5 linked regions of the Homo sapiens genome follow. The protein of the gene in region 3 purifies or fractionates together with the protein of the main gene of each other region. This does not show direct contact. Each region holds a gene or a part of one and is shown on either strand. Other genes may lie near its edges.

Region 1 (3,500 bases), on a different chromosome or scaffold from region 3:
ATTCAAATTACTTGTATAAAACAGTTTATTCTGTGTTTAGGAACTTGTAGGGGTGAAATGCTGACCTGTGTTACTCTTTCTTTCCATGATCAGCGTCCAGAGGACCAGAGGTTAATTTATTCTGGGAAGCTGTTGTTGGATCACCAATGTCTCAGGGACTTGCTTCCAAAGGTACATCACTTACACATTAACTTCTGAATGTTTTTAAGCACTCACCAGGTTAGGTTCAGGTCCTTAAGTACCTTCGTATTACTTTTAGCAGGAAAAACGGCATGTTTTGCATCTGGTGTGCAATGTGAAGAGTCCTTCAAAAATGCCAGAAATCAACGCCAAGGTGTGTCTGCCTCTTCATGATGGTAACAATTTGTATCATTCAGACTTTCAGGGGAGTAATAAAAGAAGTTGGATAAAACGTTTATTGAGAGACTGTATGGTGTTATTACCAAGTAATATTTTGTTTCTTTCCTAGGAATTAGAAACTGTATTATCAACACAAAGTGATGAGTTAATAGTAGCAGATTGTTCCGTTAGTGCTGTAGTAGAAAGGTGGAGTTACATATTGCACTATCTTATGGGATATGATTTGATCTATGGTTACTGTGTATCTAGATTACTGAACTAACACTAATCGGGTTTTTATTGAATTTAGCACATAGCAAGTTTCTTCAAAGGAGTCACTAATTTTTATAAAGAGTACAAAAGTGAATATATTTCCTTTGGAAATTTTCATTGTGATTAGTTGGATAGGAAAAGATCAGAGTTTTTATCAAGTGATCTTTAAAGAATTTTTTTTTTTTAAAAATGGTCTCGCTGTGTGGCCCAGGCTTTTCTCAAACTCCTGAGGGCAAGCGATCCTCCCACCTCAGCCTCCTGAGTAGCTGGGACTACAGGCATGTGCCACTAGACCTGGCTCTAAAGACATATATGACACACGAAACCATTTATTTTTCATTTCACAATGTTTATTCACATATATGGTATTAGTATTCTAATGTAGTGATGCACTCTAAATTTGCATTATATTTCCTAGAACATCTGAACAGAGCATAGGAAATTCCCTATTTTGCCATTATCAGTTCTAACAAAAATCTTAAAAGCACTTTATCATTTCATTTCCCTGCACTGTAATTTTTTTAAATGATCAAAAACAGTATCATACCAAGGCTTACTTATATTGGAATACTATTTTAGAAAGTTGTGGGCTGGGTTGTATTTATAAATCTTGTTGGTCAGATGTCTGCAATGAGTAAATTTAGCACCATTATCAGGAAGCTTTCTCACCAATGACAACTTCATTGGAAGATTTTAATGAAAGTGTAGCATACTCTAGGGAAAAAATATGAATATTTTAGCATCTATGTATTGAAAATTATGTTGAATAAATGTCAGACTATTTTTTACATAACGTTGCTTCTGTTTAATTTTGTCACGTTCAGAGGTGGGGGGTAGGAGATGTAAGCCCTTGACAGCAAAATAATTCCTTTTGCTTGATTTCAGACAGTTGCATCAGCTCCTTTGTTCTGTGTTCATGTTACACTTATTTAGGTGGCTGAATCCACAGAGGAGCCTGCTGGTTCTAATCGGGGACAGTATCCTGAGGATTCCTCAAGTGATGGTTTAAGGCAAAGGGAAGTTCTTCGGAACCTTTCTTCCCCTGGATGGGAAAACATCTCAAGGTGAGTGTTATAATAAAGATCTTGGCTTATGCAACATGAATGTTCCTCGTTTGCATCAATTTAAGAATAAGGTATGTTTACACGTATATAATCAGAACTTTTAAACATACAGAATTTTGCTTTATAAATAGCTTCGCTTTAAAGATCTCTTATATATTTAACTTTTCTTAATACACAGCCTTTTAGTACACACAAATTTAAAAAGTAGGTAATGCATATATTGAAAAAAAAAAGAAAATGTAGGCGTTTTATCCTTCCATTGTGCTGACCGCTTGGTTGCCGTCATGATAGGAAATTAGTGCTGCTGCAGGAGAAAACAGCTGTCGTAAGCATTGTGCAGCTGCTTTGCTGAGTGGCTTTGTGCTTTATTGTAACAATGGGTGACAACAAGGGAGAGACTGTTTAAGAAGTGTCCTTCCAAAGACTTGGGGGTACTAGGAAAATTGGCCAATTTCTTATAACTATTAAAGCTTTTCTTTAGAGCAAAAGTCAGAACTAAATGCTCTGTTATTTGGATTTTTATAGCTCTTGGAATACATTGTTTTTGGGGAAAAATTCATTAACTGCAAGTTGCAATTCTGTAACTCTCCAATTCTCCGTCCCCCTTTTTCTAGTACTTTTTATACACAATATTTTATAAAGCCAGGTGTTTTAGGAATGAGTTTTTCTTCCTTTTCCCCCTTAATGGAACTTTCAAATATACACAACAGTGGGGACTGGATAATTAATCCCCACACCATCACCCAGGCCTAATAAATAACAATCAGAGTTTTACCATAGCTCATCTATTACCCTTTCCCTTTTTTTTAAAAAAAGAGTATTTAAAAGTAATTCCCAGGCATCATGTTATTTCATCCCTATATTCTTCAGTATATAACTATGAAAACCTTTTAGTTATCTTGTATATCTAGAATGCCATTATCAGATCTAACAGAAATCTTAAAAGCACTTTATCATTTTATTTCCATGCACTGTAATTTTCTTAAATGATCAAAAACAGCATCATACCAAAGCTTACTTGTATTGGAATACTATTTTAGAAATACTCTGTGTATGGAATTTAGTTAAAAGATTGTCAGCATATAAATTGGATAATTATTGGATAGAAAATTATTGGTTAGAAAAACTTAAAACTACTTCCCTTATTCTGATTCAACTATTCTTAACTTGAGAATTGAGGCTCATATTTGACTCTCTGAATCTCACCATATTTAAACTTGATTTCCTTTAACAAATATTTATTGAACAGCCAGTACATACAACTTTGCTTAAGGATATGAGTTGACCTGCAGGAATGACCACATAACCAATTTCTGATCTTTGGGCAATTCTATTATGGTTTCAATTTTGTGATGTGCTACTGAAGAAATTGACTGTGTAAGAAGCACAAAGCCAAAGATGACTCGCATACACCTGCCCTGTGAAGTTGAGGGCTGTGTGGCCTGATTAAAGAAGCATGCATTTGGCCGGGCGCGGTGGCTCACACCTGTAATCCCAGCACTTTGGGAGGCCAAGGTGGGCGGATCACGAGGTCAGGAGATTGAGACCATCCTGGCTAACACGGTGAAACCCCGTCTGTACTAAAAGTACAAAAAATTAGCCAGGTGTGGTGGCGTGTGCCCGTAGTCCCAGCTACTGGGGAGGCTGAGGCAGGAGAATGGTGTGAATCCGGGAGGTGGAGCTTGCAGTGAGCCGAGATTGCGCCATTGCACTCCAGGCTGGGCAACAGAGCGAGACTCCATCTCAAAAAAAAAAAAAAAGAAGCATGCATTTGACATCAGACCAGCTCTGAAATCCAGCCCTGCTACTTACTAGCTCAGTGAC
Region 2 (3,163 bases), on a different chromosome or scaffold from region 3:
AGTGAGGTGGGTAGGATTTTAATTTTAGAATTACCTAAAAGATACTTACTTATCTAAATTCTCCAACTAAACTCAGTACTAATACGACTTTCAGCATTTCCTTTCTTTATAAAATAAATTAATGGTTACCCCTAACTAGATGATTCCCTTGTCTTGCCTCAAGCTGGCAACAATTTAAGTTACCGTCAGAGCTGTAGGAGAAGTCCACCTCCACTTTTTAAGATACATCTCTCTCTTCCCGGTTGGCCATAATCCAGGCATACGTCCCAGCAAAAGGCCCTGTTGCTTAGGATCTGTACGTGTGGCTTCAGCAGTGGGGGAGGGGCCAGTCCTTCAGACAGCAGGAGCACAGGAGGCTGGCCAGGGCCAAGGTGAGGGCCTGGGGGCAGCTCACAGAGGCAGGTGCTGGGATTGTGGGGACCTGGCAAAGGATTTAGATATAAGACAACTGAGGGACCTGGAGTTGGGAAAAGGGAATAAAATTCAGCAGCTAATAAAAGGGAACAGGAGCCTGGAAGGCGGGATTCTGGTTAAATCTAGTTAGCCATGGAAATTTTTTTTTTTTTTTTTTTTTTTTTTTTTTTTTTTTTGCTTATAAGGAAACGGAGTCATTTCAACCTTTCCTTCCAAACTTGATAATTACTTATTGATGACTATTCAAAATTTGACATTTTAAAAAACTTTTTGAGCTTTTAAAAATAATAGCTATAAATGCAAAGTACTATTGATAATAAAACCAAGTTGTTTATCCATATACAAAAAAGGTCAATAATGTTTTAAAAGCACAAAGTTGCATTTTAAATCACAATTGCATAGTTCTAAAATGCCTGGATAAGAGTTACATAATTTTTTTTTTAAGAAAATTCAAGTTTGGTTGACAGCGGGACCCAAAAGACATTTGCAGAGCAGAGTTCAGAATGGAAGCGCTGTTTCAATGTGAATTATTGCATTGTTGCTGAGATATTACACTATCATGAGACCAAAATTGCTACAATTTAATTACAAATCATTGGCATTTTAAAAACCATTTTTCTGTTTTTGGCTAATATAACACTTTCCTGTAGAATTCAACTGAAATTTCATATATCCCACCCCCAACCAGCAACCGAAAGCCTTAGAAAAAGCTCTATTTGTATTTCTGTGTATAAAAGGTACTGCATATATACCTCTTAGCAAAATATGTGCTCCCTTTCCTCTCCCCACCCCAGAACCATGATCATTTTTGTACAAAATCCTGGTGAAGAATCATATCAAAGATGAGAAGCAGGGAGTTCAAAGGTAAACAAACATTTGGTGAAGTGTGTAGGAAATTCCATGAGCCTCCTGTACCAGCCCCACAGAAGTCCTGGCTTTTGGTGAATGTGGCCCAGAAAAGCCACCAGTGTGTGTGGCAGCCTTTGGACGTGGTGGTGCCCCTCGCCTGCAGAGCACAGCATCATGAGGGTGCTGGTGGCTGTGGGGGGACTGCACTCAGGGAAGGGCTGAAGCAAACGCCAGGCCCCCATCTGCAGGCTGCTCAGAGTCAGTGGGTATAAAAGATGCTTTAGCATTTGGAAGAAGGGAAAAATCTTCCTGGAGACAGGAACTTGTAGCCATTTCCAGAAGGAAGCCTCAAAGGGCGCGCGGGGGCTGTGGCGGGAGGGCCGGCGGGCAGCGGCAGTGAGCCCAGCGAGGTGGTCTCGGTGCGCCAGTGTCCGTTGGGAGGGGCTTTCGGTGGAGCTCCGTCATGCTGCTGCAGGGACAGCTCCTTCAGTTCAAGCTTATCCACTCCCTCCTCCTTCTTATTGTGCCGTGGTGACAAATTCAACAGACTGAGGACATCCCTTTTGGAAGTCATCGTGCCAGGAGCCCCCCGGAAGATCTTCATTGGCCCTGTGGAATGCTGGGGTGTGCTCTGCCAGAACATCTTCAGGTTATGGACAGCCTGCACCTTTTCATCAATGGCTGCCATTTTCAGTTTGTCTATGTCGGGAGCGTCTGCTGGACTTGAGCGAGCAGATCCAGCTGAGGAGTAGGAGAGAGCTGGGGAGGGTGCACTGCCAGCAGGAGACTGGTGGCCGGAGCTTGGGGACATGTTCCTTGGTGATTTGGAAATGTGAGCGCTGTAAGGAGAGCTGGGGTACTTCAGTTTAAAGAGAGGCTGGTCCAGCTGGGAAGTCTGTGAGTCGCAGCCGGGCGATGGCCGGCCACTGTGCTGGCTCGGGCTGTCTTTGATGGACATCTCTGAGGTGGTGGGGCTGCTATATCCGGAACTCACCTTGGGCAGGGAGGAGCTCCTGGCTGGGGGCTTTGGTTTAACAGTGACTGGTGATGGCTGACTCTTCTGATGGGAGAGAACAGGCCTGCTGAACGCACTGGTTTCTGACGCTCTGAAGACAGCAGTGCTGCTGGGCGCCTGAACGCCGTCTTCAGGGTTATTACTCTTGCTCACCTGGCCGCCGCTCCTCTGAAGACGCTCCACCGCAATGAGATGACTCTGTGTCTCCTCCAGAATTTTCTGGGCTAACTCTTGTGGATCCAGTTTTGGGTTGCTTTCTTCTTGGGATTTCACGGTACTGTCCGTTTCTGTGCTAGACTGGTCTGATTCTCCTGTATCTGAGCTTGCTAGTTTTCCCACCTTTTGGAAGGGTGAGTTGGGGCTGGGAATCAGAGTCATTTTCACTGGAGAATTTGGAGTGCTGATGCTCCCTTTGGAGCTCACCGAGACTCTCATGCCTCCGGCTGTCCCAGGTTGGGGTTGTTTGTGGTCTGGTGAGAAGCATGTGTTTCGGTTTTCTTGGTAGGTCGCCAAGGGCTCGTTACTGATGATAGAAAACCCTTCATATTCTTCTTCATCTTTGTTGCCTGCAGGGCGGGTCTGGGGAGGCAGCTGGCTCCTAGGCAGGGTGGATCTCTGCAGGTAAGCGTTCTTGGACCGGTCATGGTCCTGCCGTCCTCCGGGGCCTCCACCCTCTGATCCACCCTCGGGTTTGGAGACAAAGCTCATTGAGGAGGCAATGGAGCTCAGACTGTACACAGAGATGGCATCTGAGGCGATGCTGTCCGCACCGGTGGGAGAGAAGGGGGGTTGCTGGTAACCCAAGGGCAGGGCGTTGGAAACAGACTGAGCAGAAGCAAGAGACTCGAGGGAGGAGGAGCTGTCAAGGCTGAGGCGCTTGGGTAG
Region 3 (3,500 bases):
GTCAGGGAATCCAACTAACTGATTTGCACTACCAGATGCAGGAATTAGAAGCACCGTGTACTTCTGAAGATGATAGCAACTATGTTAAAGAATGAAGAAGCTCTCTATATACTAACACATAAAGTCCTCCAACGTGTCAGATAAAAAAAAGCAAGAAACAAAACTGTGTGTACAGTGCGACACCTTTATTGTAAAAAGGAAGATAAAGATACGCATTTGTATTTGACTGCAAAAATTTAAATAAGATTTGCACATAAAACTCTATAAAAGCCGGGCATGGTGGCTCATGCCTGTAATCCCAACATTTTGGGAGGCTGAGGCAGGTAGATCAGTTGAGGTCAGGAGTTCGAGACCAGCTTGGCCAACATGGCGAAACCCTGTCTCTACCAAAAATACAAAAATTAGCCAGGTGTGGTGGCTGTAGTCCCAGTTATGGAGGCTGAGGCATAAGAATCACTTGAACCCAGGAGGCAGAGGTTGCAGTGAGCCAAGATCACACCATTGCATTCCAGCCTGGGTGACAGAGCAAGACTCTGTCTCAAAAAGAAAAAGAAAAAAAAAAAAAAACAGCTATAAAAAAGGAACAAAGAGAAGACCAGTAAAGTGATGTTGGAAATTAATATTATTATAACAGAAATAAAAAATTCAATAGCAAGATTGAAAGGCAAGTTTCAGTAGATATATTAGAGATTCAAACTAGAAAAAGTCAAAGTATGGAAAAATAGAGAAGAATCATTAGAAAATCTGAGGATCAGTCCAGTGTGTCTAACATTAGAATAAGAGGATTTTCAAAAGAGGGAACAGAGAAATTGGAGAAGAGAAAATTTTCAAAGAAATTGTACAAAACATTTCCCAGAACTGAAGTACTGAGGGTTCCAGATTGAAAAAGCTTGCTGAGTGCCCACAGCCCAGGAATGAAAACAGACCCACATCATGGCAAAGCATCAAAAAATCAAAATATTGGAGATAAAGAAGAAATCATAAAATCTTCCAAGCCATTGGCAGAGAAGAATAGGGCTTCTCAACAGACACATTAGAAGCAAAAGAAAATGAAATGATGTGTTCAAGATTCTGAAAGAGAATAATTTCCCACCTAGAATCCTATACTGAGTCAAACACTCAATCTGGTAAATTGAAGATATTTTCAGACTGTCAGGGTCTCAAAAAAATTAGCAACTGTTTACCTTCCTTGGGTGGGAAGATATATGACTGAAGCATGAGAATAAACAAAATAGAAAGGAAAAGACAGGTTCAGGAAACAGAGTCTAAACAGGAGAGAAGCACAAGGAATTCCCAGGATGATGTGCATGAGAGACTCCAGGATGATAGCTGTGTGGCAGTGCCAGGAGGCAGCAGTGAAGATGGGGGCAGGAGGAGGGGTCTCCATGAACAGAGAGTAACTGACAAACACCTGAGCTGTCTGAGGGTGCTAAAAGATGGTTTGGTCTTCAGCAGAGTGTTTAGAAACGCATTGTAAATTAAGAAACCAAAATTATTTCCATGGCAAACATAAAATTGTATGAGAAAGAAAATATAACATAGGACAACATAATGAGTCCTTGTGATTAATATTTAAATAACCATAATGATAATTAACACTGAATACTGATTTAGCTCTTGAGAGTGATACAACTATATTCATGGGGGTGGGAGGAAGAGGAAGCAGGAATGTGTGCATGTGTGTAGGTGCGTGTGTGAGAGATAGGAAAGAGAGGGAAAGAGAGAGACAGAACAAGAGAGAACAGGTGCAGTGTTGGATTGTTGGATGCTAAAATGGAGCTAGACACATTTGGATCATTGTTAAAAATACGGATTTAGGAGCCAGACTGAGTTCAAATCCTGGCTCCACAATTTATTGCCATCATTACTATGTAATCTTGGGCAAGATATGTAATCATTCTATGTCTCAGTTTCCAATACGCAAAATTAGGATAATAATAGTATCTGCTTGGCTGGGTGGGGTGGCACATGCTGGTAGTTCTAGCTGCTCAGGAGGCTGAAGTGGGAGGATCTCTTGAGCCCAGAAGTTAGAGGATGCTGTGAGCCAAGATCACACGACTGCACTGCAGCCTAGGTGACTGAGCAAGACCCTGTTTCTTAAAAAAAAAAAAAAGTATCTGCCACATAGTGTCATTGAGAAGATTAAAATAGTACATATGTGTAAAGCACCTGAAATATTCTCTGGGATACTGTACGTGCTTTATAAGTGTTTATAAGTGCTATCATTTTGATTTTCTATAGTAGAATGCCAGTAGATAACAGGGATACTATTTGAAACTGAAAATCTGTATGAGCATGTTACTTAGAAATAGAGAATACTAGAGAAAACACCTGAAGGAAAAGTGAATGGTCGATTCAAAAGAGTGAGGCTAGGGAAGGGGGTGGGTTTGGCACAGGGCACATCCAGTCTTTATTATAATGCTAGTATTACTCTTATAAGTATCTATATCACTTTAACAATAAATTAAAATAGAACACTTAAAAGAAGGTTTTGGTCATAGTCTAAAGATAATAAAGTTTAGACTTTGATGGGCATTTCTGCTTTAATATAAGAGGTGCTGTGGTCAAAAACACTAAAATGAGCACTCTTTCTGCAGGACAAAACCCCTTATGATTAGAGCTAAGTCTGTACCAAGTAAAATATTAACTTGAGGCATTTATCTGAAAAATATCAGGATAATTCAATCCTCCCTGAACCCTTCAATTACCTAGTCCCAAATTAACAGTATTCAAAGAACGAAAGTGTTTGGGTAATTCTGGCATGAATTATTCAGATAATTTGCTACTCCTCTATTTCATTTTTGGATATGAAATCACATTCTGAGTGACCAAAATTGGAAAGAAAAAAAGCTTAAATTTAAATAACAGTTTTTCAAGTGTTCTAACTTGCTGACTCTTCTAGGCATGGATTGCAGATTTCCACAGTCCATGGTGACCAGACTGCAACTTACAGCATCCATGTAGAATGGTCCACGGCACGCACGACATTTCCGCTGATAACCAAAACAGGGAAACCTTGCTATTTTCTGTGATCTCCCTCAGAGTTTTGACTGAGAGCACATCTATAAGTCTCATCTACTAAGAAATGGATTTTGGTTCAAGGCATGAAAACTTGTATTTGAAGTGCCCAAATGGAAACTCACTGTGGGTAGGTGGACTTGTGACCAGAAGGCCAATATTGATAAAGAACACACCATTTTTCCCCGCTGTGGGAAGACAGGCTCAGTCCTTTTTTTATTCATATTTTTCTCTCTTCTTCCACTTTTCCTCTCTCTAGCTTCACCTCTCTCCAAATATCTATGAAGTCTCTATCATGCACCAGGCACCAAGCAAGACACTGGGAGTACACGTGGAGTACAAAGGTGCTATTGGGGATTACTATTTTCATGAAGCTCTTAGGCCTTTTTCACAGAGCTTGCCATGTTTTACTTGAATCCTATTTTCATTCTCTCTTGATTATGATCTCCCTGAGTGAAGGAATCAGGCCTTATCCTGGCAGA
Region 4 (6,111 bases), about 54 Mb from region 3:
ACATCCGCGCAGACGCTGGATGGGAGGAGGCAACACTGGAGGGGCGAGGCTCCCAGCCGCGACCGCAACCCTGGCCCTGTCCATGCCCCGGGGTTGGACGCGGGCGGGTAGGACAGACAGATGGACAGACACTAACACAGGCTCCGAGGGGGTTGCCTCAGAGCGGAAGGAAGATCTCGTGATTGGGGAGAAGGAGTCTAAGGACAGCCCTGGCTCTGGGGGGCGGGGCAGGGACAGGGACAGAATTGTGCTGCTGGTGGGGGCTCTCCTGGGCCCCTACGCCTCTGGCTCATACTCCTGATATTCCTCCTGCATCACCGGGATGGGGGTGGAGTAGAGAAGAGCAAAAAGGAGGAGGAGTTTGAGACCAAGTGGCCAAGCCCCGGCCCAAGAACCCTCTCCCTGAAGGAGGAATAGCACATTCCCCTTTTCCTGGGCAGGGGAGGAGCCTGGAAGTTGGGGACAACAGAGAATTCTTGGGCAGGTGTGCCTGGGGCCCAGCGCTAGACCCTATCTGCCCTCTCCTCCCTGCTCCCACCTCCTGGGGCCTGGGTTCTAGAAGAGGGATGTCAAGCTCCCTGGCCCAACCATCTCATGCCAGGGATGTCCCACCCCAGCTAGGGACGGCAGCAATCATCCTGGATTCCCAAAGTCCCGCCCAGCCCTGCTGCCCCCTCACCTGGGGTGGGTCCTCATAACTCTCCCCTTCTGGCTCCATCAGGGGCTCAATCAGTGGTTCTTCAGCAGCTTCCTGGGCCACTTCCTCTGGCTGTGGGCAGAAAAGGTCAGGACTCGTGAGGACAGCCAGGATGCCCCCCAAATTCCCACAGTGGTAAGCTTTGGGTGGGTTGGAGTGGGGAAGGCTAGGGTGGGTTGGCAGAGCAAGGATAATTTCTAATTCAGTTATTTATTTGGAGTGCCTTGGAAGTGGGATGGAGGTGAAGGGGGAAATTCCCCCGAATCACAGTTGAAGTGGCAGCATGGAGTGGGAGCTGGCTCTCCACGCCGCTCCCCCAATGCCTGGCAGCCTCCACACTTCCACCATTTGGATACTCAGTCACCAGCTTATGCCTCATCCTTTGTGTCAGGCTCTGTGCTGGGCATCGGGACCCCAGAGATAACCCTCAGGCTCCCCTGGGCTGAAGGGAGCTGGAGGCTCAGGGACAGGGCTGGGCAGGGGCTCTGAGCCATTCCCCCGCCACCTTCCACTCATCCCTCCCCCGGGCCCTGTGTGGCCTCGTTTCTTCAGCTGTTGCTATTTTAAGATAAGCTGGAAGCCACAGCTCGTGGTGTTGCTTGGATGTGTGAGCTAAGACTCTCCCCCCCACCCGCTGCGTCTGCTGCCCAGACAGGCGCAGACCAGCGGGCATGCATGTGGGCGGGCTGCCAGACACATGGCCAGCCACCTGCAGGTGACCACATGTATGTGAACAAACATGGGACTGAGCTGGCTGCACACACAAGCACACGCGATAGCTTAGGATCCATGCACAGCCTGTGCAGTGCCTCATGTGGGGCTGGCACACGCCTGGGATCCCGGAGCATTGGTGCTGGGGAAAGCCTGCCCTGACCACGTCTGCACCCTGGGTGTCCCAGCTCCATCCAGGCAGCGTCAGCTCCTTCACATTACCTGTCTAAGTGGGCCCTGTGGGCACATGAGTTTCCAGCTCCTGACCTGGCTCATTTCCCCACTGCACAGATGCGTATGCCAAGGCCCAGGAGGTGGGGAAATGTTAGTTTGCCCCCAAGTCACCCAGCTATGACCAGAACCCAGGGATGGAATGTAGTGCTAAAAATGCCAGCTTGATAGCTGGGCACTGTGGTGCGTGCCTCTAGTCCCAGCTACTTGGGAGGCTGAGGCAGGAGAATCGCTTGAACCCGGGAGGCGGAGTTTGCAGTGAGCCAAGATCACGCCACTGCACTCCAGCCTAGGTAACAGAGTGAGACTCCATCTCAACAAAACAAAACAAAACAAAACAAAACAAAACAAGCCAGCTTGAGCACATTGTTTGGAAACAACCCAAATGTCCAACATCAGTAGAATGGATGTGTGCCTTGTGACCTAACGACACAATGGAATACTACATAACAAGAATGAAGAACAACAATGCATACAAGAGCAGGGCTGAGTCTCACAAGCTTCCTGATGAATGGAGGAAGCCAGATACAGAACAGAAGAGCATGGCCTTCATGATGACTTTTTTTTTTTTTTTTTTTTTTTTGAGACAGTCTCACTCTGTGGCCCAGGCTGGTGCGCAGTGGTGTGATCTCGGCTCACCGCAACCTCAGCCTCCTGGGTTCCAGCGATTCTCCTGCCTCAGCTTCCCAAGTAGCTGGGATTACAGGCATGTGCCACTGCATCTGGCTAATTTTTGTATTTTTAGTAGAGATGGGGTTTCGCCATGTTGGTCAGGCTGTTCTCAAACTCCTGACCTCAGGTGATCTGCCCACCTCGGCCTCATGCCTGGGATTACAGGCATGAGCCACTGTGCCCAGCCTCATGATAACATTTACAAGAAGTCAAAAAACACCCAACTAGTGTTGTGCTGATAGAAGCCAGGAAGCAAGGCCAGGCATAGTGGCTCACGCCCGTTACCACTCCCAGCATTTTGGGAGGTCAAGGTGGGCAGATCACTTGAGGTCAGGAGTTTGAGACTAGCCTGGCCAACATGGTGAAACCCATCTCTACTAAATATACAAAAATTAGCTGGGCATGGTGGTGCACGCCTGTAGTCTCAGTTACTCAGGAGGCTGAGGCAAGAGCATTGCTTGAACCCAGGAGGTGAAGGTTTCAGTGAGCTGAGATTGTGGCACTGCACTCCAGCCTGGGCAACAGGGCGAGACTCCGTCTAAAAAAAAAGTCAGAAAGCAGTTCCCCTTGGAGGGCGATAGGCAGGGCCAGGACTGAGGGGAGGTGGGTGAGGCTCCTGGAGTGTAGATGTTAGGGAGGCCTGGCCTCCGTCTCCTGGCCATGCAAGTGAGACTCCATGAGTGAGTGCCCCAGACACCTCTTTTGTCTCCCCCTAGTCCTGGCCCTGGGGATAGGAACTGGAAGGGGTCACAAGGTGGGGTCCTGGGGGGTAGTGTTCTGTCTCGAGCTGGCTACTGGTTACAAGGGGAGTTCCCTTTGTGAACATTTCATGGAGCTGCCAGTTTTCCACATGTACATTGTACTTCAATAAAAAGTTCACTTAAAAAAATACCCATAGCCTGTAATCCCAGATACTTGGAGGGCTGAGGCAGGAGGATTGCTTGAGCCCAGGAGTTCCAGATCAGCCTGGGCAACATAGCAGGACCCCATCTCAGAAAACAAACAAACAACCCCAGCCTGGCCACCTGGTAGCTACCTGGCATCAGGCAAGTCATTTTGCTTCTAATCTCAGCAGCCTTGCATGGGAAACGAGGCTGGTGAGGATTCCGTGATGATGGATGGAAAGCATGCTCGAAGCAGAGAGTCTCAGAAATGCAGACCATGGGCCTGCATGAGTCCCCCATGCCGCTGGTGGCCCAAGGGGCTGTTGTCTGTGTTATAACTCTATGATCTTGGGCTCCCTTGGGAGGGTAGCCTTGAGGCGTCAACAAGCACCAGTAGGAGAAAGGTGACCAGAGAGAAATGGTTCTGTGCAAACACCCATCACAGCCTGGGGCTGACAGGCTGAACCTGCCTCTCTTTTGCACCCCAGCTCGCAGCACTAGGACTGGCCCTGTGCCATCACCAAGCGACCCCAGTGACATGGCCTGAGCTTATCCTCCTGACCACCTTATAAGGGAGGCAGGCAGGAAATGGGGTCTTGGGCAAGTGACTTCACTTCTCTAAACCTCAGTCTCTTCATCTGTAAAACGGGCTGGTTATGGTGCCACATTGGGAAGAGTCAATGAGTTAGTTCATCTAGAGTCAAACATCTAGGACAGTGCCTGCTCATGAAAGAGATCAATGAATGGAAGTGATTATTGGTAACATGATTATAAGAAATGGGAAGTCATGGCCGGGTGCAGTGGCTCATGCCTGTAATCCCAGCACTCTGGGAGGCCGAGGCAGGTGGATCACCTGAGGTCAGGAGTTCGAGACCAGCCTGGCCAACATGGTGAAACCCCGTCTCTACTAAAAATACAAAAAATTAGCCGGGTGTGGTAGCGGGTGCCTGTAATTCCAGCAACTTGGGAGGCTGAGGCAGGAGAATTGCTAGAATCCAGGAGGCAGAGGTTGCAGTGAGCCAAGATCGTGCCATTGCACTCCAGCCTGGGCAACAAGAGCAAAACTCCGTCTCAAAAAAAAAAAAAAACAAAAAAAAACAAATGGGAAGTCATACAGATAGTAAAATGCAGAGACAGGGCTTGAACTAGAACTTCTGAGTCAAGATCCTGACTTCCAACAGTGGAAGGAACCAACTGTGCAAAATGACAGGAGTGGAGGGCAGCGTGGGGTCTCCCACAGCCTGGTGGATGCACTCATGCTGAACGTACACTGATCACCCAAACCAGACGCTGCAGAAGGAGCCCCCATCCCCATGGAGGCAGGGTCTGCACGCGTCCATGGACAGACACAGAGCATTCACAGCGAATGCCTGCACACACATGTCATGGGGGATCCACTTCCAGGCACGCCTGTGGTCACAGGATCCCCTGCAGGCAGACCCAGACTGCTTGAGTGATCATGTGGCCACAATCTCTTGCAGGGCATTCACTGTATGCAAACCCAGCTCTTTATATCCATGGTTCTCATAGTATGCTCCCTGGAACTGCGGCATCAACCTCACCCGGGTACTTGTTAGAAATGCAAATCCTCCAGCCCCACCTCAGACCTACTGAATCAGAAATTCTAACGATGGGGCCAAAAATCTGTATTTTAACCTGGCCTCTTGGTGATTGATACACACTCAAGCTTTGAGAATATCTATATTATCTCCAATCTGCATGAGATTCCTATTGTGTTCACTCGCATTTTACAAGTGAACTATCAAGTTCAGAGACATGGTGGGAACTGCCCAGGGTCACACAGCCAGGAAGTAGTGGAGTTAGGATTCAAACCCAGCTGAGGCTGGGGGTAGGTGGGTTCAGAGCTCACAACTCTTAACCCCCTCTTATCAGGGGGTCCTAGTAGGGGGATCTGTCTCCATGCACACATGAGTGGTTCCCAGGGCTCCCCTGGGGAAACACAACTGCACAGATCACACCCACCCCAGCACAGCTCCCACCTGCTCCAACCTGCCTCAGGGCCTTGGTACTTGCTGTTCCTACAGCCTGAAATTCGCTTCCCACACATCTCAAGGCTGCCTCTCTCATCCCTTGGGTGTCAGCTCAAATGGTTCTTCCTCAGAGAAGTCTTCCCAGCCAAAATAGCCCTCTCACCCCTTGCCTGTCTGTCCCATCGCCCTCTCTGTCTTTTCTCTGTAGCACTTATCCCCGCGGAAAGCATCCTGCCTGCTGGCTTGCGTTTTACTATCTTCTCCCACTACAATGTCAGCTGCAGGAACGTAGGAACCTATTCACTGCGGCAGCCTCTACAACAATTCCTCTCTGGCATGGATATTTGTTGAATGAAAAGAAATGAATGAACAATCATTGACACATGCAGACGTGGCCAGAAGTCATCTGGGTCACGCTGGCAAGCAGGATACACGCAGACAGCCAGGTCTGGGTCCCCATCACCGGGAGCGTCACACCCATGCACGCCTTTATTCAGATGCATTCTGAGCTGAGTCTAGCACGGGCCTGCAGGATGGGAGGCAAAGTGGCTTGTGTTCCAAGCTGGTGGCAGGATTAGGGGGGCGGGGATGGTGACAGGTTTATTTGTGTGCCTGGTGTGTGTGTGTGTGTGTGTGTGTGTGTTTGCCTGCATGTGCGGGTCAGAAGGATCGCTTACCTTCAGATCAGTAGGGAATTCCTCCCTCTTCACCAGTCCTGTGGCTGCTGCGATGTTCCCTGCCCCAGAGAACACAGCTCCTCCCAGATGTGAGGCCTGTTCCTTGGTTTTTTCAGCCACTGGAGCAGGGAGGGGGTTGAGGAAGGGGTTTGGGAGCCAGGGGGAAACACCGATGCCCTGCCTTGTAGTATCCCAGGGCCTGCCCTCCCCACGGAGCATTCCCGCAGAAGCCTTGGGAGTCTCCCCCG
Region 5 (6,111 bases), on a different chromosome or scaffold from region 3:
CAGAAAAACACAGACGTGTACACAGTTTGATTCTTCTTAGACTGAACACCTGGTTTCACCAGCCCCCAGATACAGAGTGTGATGAGAACACCGAGGCCCCTTCACCCCACCCCAGGGCTCAACCTCCCCCTGGGCAGCTGCTGCTCTGTCTCCTCAAACTTCCCGGGCGGGTTCTGCCTGTTCTCACAGCTCCTGCATGTGGAGTCGGTGGGTTCTGCCTGTTCTTACAGCTCGTGCGTGTGGAGTCGGTGGTTCTGCCTGTTCTCACAGCTCCTGCGTGTGGAGTTGGGTTCTGCCTGTTCTCACAGCTCGTGTGTGTGGAGTTGGCGGGTTCTACCTGTTCTTACAGCTCGTGCATGTGGAGTCGGTGGTTCTGCCTGTTCTCACAGCTCATGTGTGTGGAGTCGGTGGTTCTGCCTGTTCTCACAGCTCATACATTGGAATCGGGCAGTATATGTTGTTTCAGGCTTCTTTCTCCGCATGTCATGTTTGTGAGTCATGCCTGTTGACACAGGTGGTTGTAATCTGGTCTCACTGCTGTGTAATGCCTGCAGAGTGTACCATGGCGGCCTGGCCACCCTCCTGTCAGTGGGTACCGGGCAGCTCCCAGTGTCCTCTTGGGCCTGGCTTTGGTGCGCACACGGACACCTTTCTGATGGGGAACCTGCTCTTTCGCCTGCCTGTGCTGTGGTGCTGCCCCGAACAGCCGTGTGATCGTGCCCCCGAGCCTTTCATTCACTGAGTCCACAGCGCTTTGCTGAGCAAAAGCAAATGAACAGGTCAATGAAGCGAGACCAGGAGGAACAGCAGAGTCTTGTGAACCCCAGGACTCTCAGCTCAGGGGCTCGGGGTGACTGCAGAACCATACAGGCGGTGGAAGTGGGGCCCCCCGACCCGGGGACGTCTGTTTCTCGCTCCTAGGCAAGGTTGGCCTCTTGCACCTCTTTCCATAGATCCCAGCTCTGCCTTTGGGGGGTGCAGGCCTGTGCACCTGCAAGAGGGCCCAGCAGTGCCCAGCCCCTCGGAGCCCGAGTCAGTGAGAGCACCCAGGACCGGGACCAGAGGCCCCCAGTCAGCACAGCTGCTTCAAAATTGAAAGCCAGGCTGGGCGCGGTGGCTCACGCCTGTAATCCCTGCACTTTGGGAGGCCGAGGTGGGTAGATCACTTGAGGTCAGGAGTTTGAGATCAGCTTGGCCAACATGGTGAAACCCCGTCTCTATTAAAAAAAAAAAAAAAAAATTACGTGTGGTGGCAGACGCCTATAATCCCAGGTACTTGGGAGGCTGGGGCAGGAGAATCACGTGAACCCAGGAGGTAGAGGTTGCAGTGAGCCAAGATTGTGCCACTGTACTCCAGCCCGGGTGACAAAGCAAGACTTCATCTCAAAAAAATAAAAAAATAAGAAATAAATTGAGGCCGGGTGCAGTGGCTCATGCCTGTAATCCCTGCACTTTGGGAGGCCGAGGTGGGTAGATCACTTGAGGTCAGGAGTTCGAGATCAGCCTGGCCAACATGGTGAAACCCCCTCTCTATTAAAAATACAGAAAAAAATTAGCCAGGTGTGGTGGCAGACACCTGTAATCCCAGCTACTTGGGAGGCTGGGGCAGGAGAATCACATGAACCCAGGAGGTAGAGGTTGCAGTGAGCCAAGATTGTGCCACTGTACTCCAGCCCGGGTGACAGAGCGAGACTCCGTCTCAAAACAATAAATAAGAAATAAATTGAGGCCGGGCACGGTGGCCCATGCTTGTAATCCCAGCACTTTAGGAGGCCGAGGTGGGCAGATCACCTGAGGTCAGGAGTTCGAGACCAGCCTGGCCAACATGGTGAAATCCTGTCTCTACCAAAAATACAAAAAGTAGACAGGTGTGGTGGCACGTGCCTGTAATCCCAGCTACTCAGGAGGCTGAGGCAGGAGAATCATTAGAATCCAGGAGGCGGAGACTGCAGTGAGCCAAGATGTGTTGCACTGTAGCCTGGGTGACGGATGGAGTGAGATTCTGTCTCAAAAAAAAAAAAAAATTGGAAGCCAGTCTCCCAGGAGAGGTGTAGACATGCTTTGGTTTCTCTCTGATATGTATTTATTATTGATCTTCAGTAAATTTGACTCTGATCTGTTAACATGGGGCTAATGATACCTGCATTGCAGGGTTGCTTTAAAAGGATTAATAATTTGTAAAATGTGTAGCCCAGACCCCGCCGTCCACTAAGAGCTCAGTAGGTGTCACTATTATCATTGATGCCACTTAGCAAATATGAGCTCTTTAAATCATTATGACAACTTTGAGGGGAAGATGCCCTTAGTCCATTGTACAGATGAAGAAACTGAGGCTTAGTGAGGAGAATGGATGGCCCCTGGGTCCCATCTCCCGTCGCTAGAGAACTGGGGAGCAAGAATTGGAGTTCTGGCCGGGCATGGTGGCTCACACCTGTAATCCCAGTACTTTGGGAGGTCGAGGCAGGAGGATCACCTGAGCCCAGGAGTTCAAGACCAGCCTGGACAACATGGCGAAACGCCACATCTACAAAAAGTTTTAAAAATTAGCCGGGTGTGGTAGCACGTGCCTGTGGTCCCTGTTGCTTGGGAGGCTGAAGTGAGAGGATCATTTGAGCCCAGGAGGTTGAGGCTACAGTGAGCTGTCATTGCACCACTGCTCTCTAGCCTGGGCAGCGGTGTGAGACCCTGTCTCAAAAAATAGTAAGAAAAAAGAATTGGAGTCCTTGTCCATCGTAATGCCTGCATAGTAGTCAGGGAAGAAGAAGAGCACCACAGTGGGCCCTGGGCACTCACTTCTGCTCTGGGCCTCGCAGGCAGCTGAGCCTGAGGTGGAGGTGGAGGTGTACCGGCGGGACTCCAAGAAGCTGCCAGGCCTGGGAGACCCTGACATCGACTGGGAGGAGAGCGTCTGCCTGAATCTCATCCTGCAGAAGGTATGGGGTGGGATGGGTGGGGCTGCGGATTGGCCCTGTGGGATGGCTGACCCCTCCCTGCACGCTGACCCGTGCTCTCTTCCAGCTGGACTACATGGTGACCTGTGCGGTGTGCACACGTGCTGACGGCGGGGACATTCACATCCATAAGAAGAAATCTCAGGTGAGCCCTGGCACGAGAGCCCCCAGCCTCCTAACTGCCAGTTCAGGCTGGGCGTGGCAGAGAGAGACAAGTCCTCCTGCTTGCTTCTCTGCCCTGGAGGTGAGGGGTCTGACTCCAGAAATCTGCTCAGCTCCTGGGATCCCGTATCCCATTCGAGGAGCACAGAACCAGCTTATCCCCCACATCTCCTGGTAGGTCTCTGGCTTTGGACTGGCTCTGGGCCGGGTGGCCTCCCTATACTGGCTTGGACTGGCTCTGGGCCTGTGTGCCGGGTGGGGCCTCACTTGTCCTCCAAATCTGCTTTCTTCCAGCAAGTGTTCGCGTCCCCCAGTAAACACCCCATGGACAGCAAGGGGGAGGAGTCCAAGATCAGCTACCCCAACATCTTCTTCATGATTGACAGCTTCGAGGAGGTGAGCTCTGCACAGGGCCTCTCTCCTTAGCTTCCCCTTCTCGTGAGATGGGTGTTAGGCGCTTCTCCCCGCGGCCTTAGCCTTGCAGAAAGGCATGGGTGGCTTGGAGCCGGGAAGAGTCCGGCTGAGGCAGATGTGGCTCTCTCTCTTCCCAGTGTTTGCTTGTGGGCAGGTGAATTTCCCCGGCGCAGCCTCCGTTTCCTCCTCTGTAAAATCAGTGTCATGATCATCTGTCCTACTTACTGTCAGGGCTGAAGACTAAAAGGCTCCTGAGTGGGAGGACGCCTCATAAACTCTTGCAAGAAGCACTGCCCGGGCGGGAGGAGCCATTATTAATGCTAGTAAATGATAAAGAAGCGCCTCCACGCCTGCACTGACTTGGAATCCTAGGATGTCAAAGAGGGATGGGGTTTCCGGAGTTATCTGGGCCAAGCCTTTGTTTTAAGGTTTGGGAAACGGGCTTGGGCAGAAGGAGACTCACCGAGAAACACAGGGCACTGGGAGGGCGGGGAGGGAGCCGGTCGCAGCTCACTCCCTGCTCTGCCCATTTGTGTCTCTCCTCTGTTGAGGCCCTGGTCGGGGTCCTTGTGCGCATCCAAGGTGCTCAGGGCCCTGAGGACTTAGGAGGAAGGCGTGGGCGTCTGCAGGAAAATCGCAGGCTCAGGGAGGTCATGTCCCCTCCCCAGGCACACGTAGCTCCTAGAGGGCAGAGCTGAGATTTGCGTCTAAGTCTTTGTGGCCTCGGAGCTCACAGTCTGTGCACCAGGTCCTGGGAGCAATGACTCGGGAAGGTGGCAGGATGGGGCCTGTGGCACCTTAGTCTGGTGTTGTCACCCCAGGTGGGCAGTCACCCTGCCACCACACTGAGCCTTTGGCCACACAGGAGCCTCAAAGATGTGGCAGGCAGGGCTGGGCACCCCTAGGCGGTGTGGAGGGGCCCAGACGGTGGCTGACGGTCCTGGTGAACCGTGATGAGGGTGTGCGTCTTCTGCCAGTCCCAGAGTCTCCGTAAGCGTCCCTGTCCTCCCCTGCTGCTCAGCCCCTGCCCCAGTGTGAGGCTGTTCTTGTCCTGTGGGGCTCGGAGGGCATGGGGCCACAGGAGTGTGTGACAGCCGGTTGTCCCCTGCAAAATGGGGTTTTCTGAGCAGCCCTCCCTGCCAGTTGGGCCAGGCTGTGGTGTGGGCGGTGGGAGCTGATGGTCACGTCCCTGTCTCTTTGTGTCCTGGCCCAGGTGTTCAGCGACATGACCGTAGGGGAAGGAGAGATGGTCTGTGTGGAGCTGGTGGCTAGTGACAAAACCAACACGTTCCAGGGGGTCATCTTTCAGGGCTCCATCCGCTACGAGGCGCTCAAGAAGGTGTATGACAACCGGGTGAGTGCGGGGCGGCCTCACGGGTGTTCTTCTGGGCCCGGGGACGGCGGCTCCACAGCCCACCGTGGTCCATACCATGGGGCCCCCCAGCCTGCTTGTGCATGGTAGCGGCCGCCAGGGGTACCTGCAGCCCCTCCGGGCTCCTTCTAGGCGCTCCCTGGTCCTCTTAACGTCATTCTTCATGGTCGGCCTCAGCCCATGCGGGCCACTTGCCTTCATCTGAAATGTGAGCGGGAACTTCCTCCTCAGTCTCTAGTTCCCTGGGAAGTGATGGCTGATGGTGTCGCTGTCACCTCCTCACTGTCACTTGCTTCCTGCGACTGGCCCTGGGAGTGCTCCGAGTCGCCCCCAACTAAGCAAGCAGATGTGGGCAGGCCCCTCTCCCCCAGCGGGCACCATCCGCAGCCAGCCTTGCTGCCAGCCTGGGGCCCTGTCCTCAGCCTGGTCCGTGGTTCATGGGGCGGTGGGAGGGGCACCAGGAGGGGCACCAGGCAGAGATGTGGGTCCATTCCAGCTGCCCCGCCTGCCAGCTCAGACGCTCCCTCCCGGGCAGCCCCCGCTCCTTGAGGGATGGTCGCCCTGGCTGTTCATGTCCTGGGGAGGGGCCCCATGGAGCCATCGCCACCTCCCTGACTCAGGCTGCCCCGCGCCGGCCCCCAGGTGAGCGTGGCCGCCCGCATGGCACAGAAGATGTCGTTTGGCTTCTACAAGTACAGCAACATGGAGTTTGTGCGCATGAAGGGCCCCCAGGGCAAGGGCCACGCCGAGATGGCGGTCAGCCGAGTGTCTACAGGTGACACATCCCCCTGTGGGACTGAAGAGGACTCCAGCCCAGCTTCGCCCATGCACGAGCGGGTAAGGGCTGCACAGCTGGGGGCGGGGGCTCCCATCCGTCAAGTTCACTTTCCACCGTCTCCCCCGTGCTCACGGCCCCCTGGGGACATAGGTGTTGTCATCCCCAACCACCAGTGCGCAGGCCGAGGTGCCGAGCGTGCGGAGGCCCGGACCACCCAGCCCTTCTCTTTGCCTAGCGGTTTGTAGGAGGCACTGCCGCAGGGGAGGCGTTCCTGCCTTGCAGACCTGGAGGGCTGTGCCTGGCCAAGGTCACACCGCAGGCTGGTGCTGGGCCAGAGCTCTTTCTGCCTCCCTGAGATGCCACAAAGCCAGGCTGAGTCCACAGAGCCAGTGGGCAGAAGAGACTGGCTGGGGACCCAGGCCCGGCCCTGGCGC

Evidence for each region.
Region 1: the proteins of SNCAIP (region 3) and HERPUD1 purify together in Homo sapiens (affinity purification with western blotting; one study listed by BioGRID). This does not show direct contact.
Region 2: the proteins of SNCAIP (region 3) and TTC28 purify together in Homo sapiens (affinity purification with mass spectrometry; one large-scale study listed by BioGRID and IntAct). This does not show direct contact.
Region 4: the proteins of SNCAIP (region 3) and SNCB purify together in Homo sapiens (co-immunoprecipitation; one study listed by IntAct). This does not show direct contact.
Region 5: the proteins of SNCAIP (region 3) and KIAA0930 purify together in Homo sapiens (affinity purification with mass spectrometry; one large-scale study listed by BioGRID and IntAct). This does not show direct contact.

The regions. Positions count from the first base shown.
Region 1 is NC_000016.10:56,935,142-56,938,641, forward strand, and holds part of HERPUD1 (homocysteine-responsive endoplasmic reticulum-resident ubiquitin-like domain member 1 protein), read left to right. Parts: intron 1-93; coding exon 94-171; intron 172-259; coding exon 260-334; coding exon of another isoform or gene 335-336; exon of another isoform or gene 337-350; coding exon of another isoform or gene 351-356; intron 357-1,545; coding exon 1,546-1,676; intron 1,677-3,500. UniProt on the Homo sapiens protein: Component of the endoplasmic reticulum quality control (ERQC) system also called ER-associated degradation (ERAD) involved in ubiquitin-dependent degradation of misfolded endoplasmic reticulum proteins.
Region 2 is NC_000022.11:27,980,678-27,983,840, forward strand, and holds part of TTC28 (tetratricopeptide repeat protein 28), read right to left. Parts: coding exon 1,544-3,163; 3' UTR 1-1,543. UniProt on the Homo sapiens protein: During mitosis, may be involved in the condensation of spindle midzone microtubules, leading to the formation of midbody.
Region 3 is NC_000005.10:122,458,737-122,462,236, reverse strand, and holds part of SNCAIP (synphilin-1), read right to left. Parts: exon of another isoform or gene 2,903-3,500; intron 1-2,902. UniProt on the Homo sapiens protein: Isoform 2 inhibits the ubiquitin ligase activity of SIAH1 and inhibits proteasomal degradation of target proteins. Isoform 2 inhibits autoubiquitination and proteasomal degradation of SIAH1, and thereby increases cellular levels of SIAH.
Region 4 is NC_000005.10:176,620,535-176,626,645, forward strand, and holds part of SNCB (beta-synuclein), read right to left. Parts: intron 5,983-6,111; coding exon 5,864-5,982; intron 770-5,863; coding exon 680-769; coding exon of another isoform or gene 593-679; exon of another isoform or gene 515-592; intron 310-514; coding exon 277-309; 3' UTR 1-276. UniProt on the Homo sapiens protein: Non-amyloid component of senile plaques found in Alzheimer disease. Could act as a regulator of SNCA aggregation process. Protects neurons from staurosporine and 6-hydroxy dopamine (6OHDA)-stimulated caspase activation in a p53/TP53-dependent manner.
Region 5 is NC_000022.11:45,202,615-45,208,725, reverse strand, and holds part of KIAA0930 (uncharacterized protein KIAA0930), read left to right. Parts: intron 1-2,813; coding exon 2,814-2,933; intron 2,934-3,018; coding exon 3,019-3,096; intron 3,097-3,407; coding exon 3,408-3,509; intron 3,510-4,740; coding exon 4,741-4,881; intron 4,882-5,541; coding exon 5,542-5,736; intron 5,737-6,111.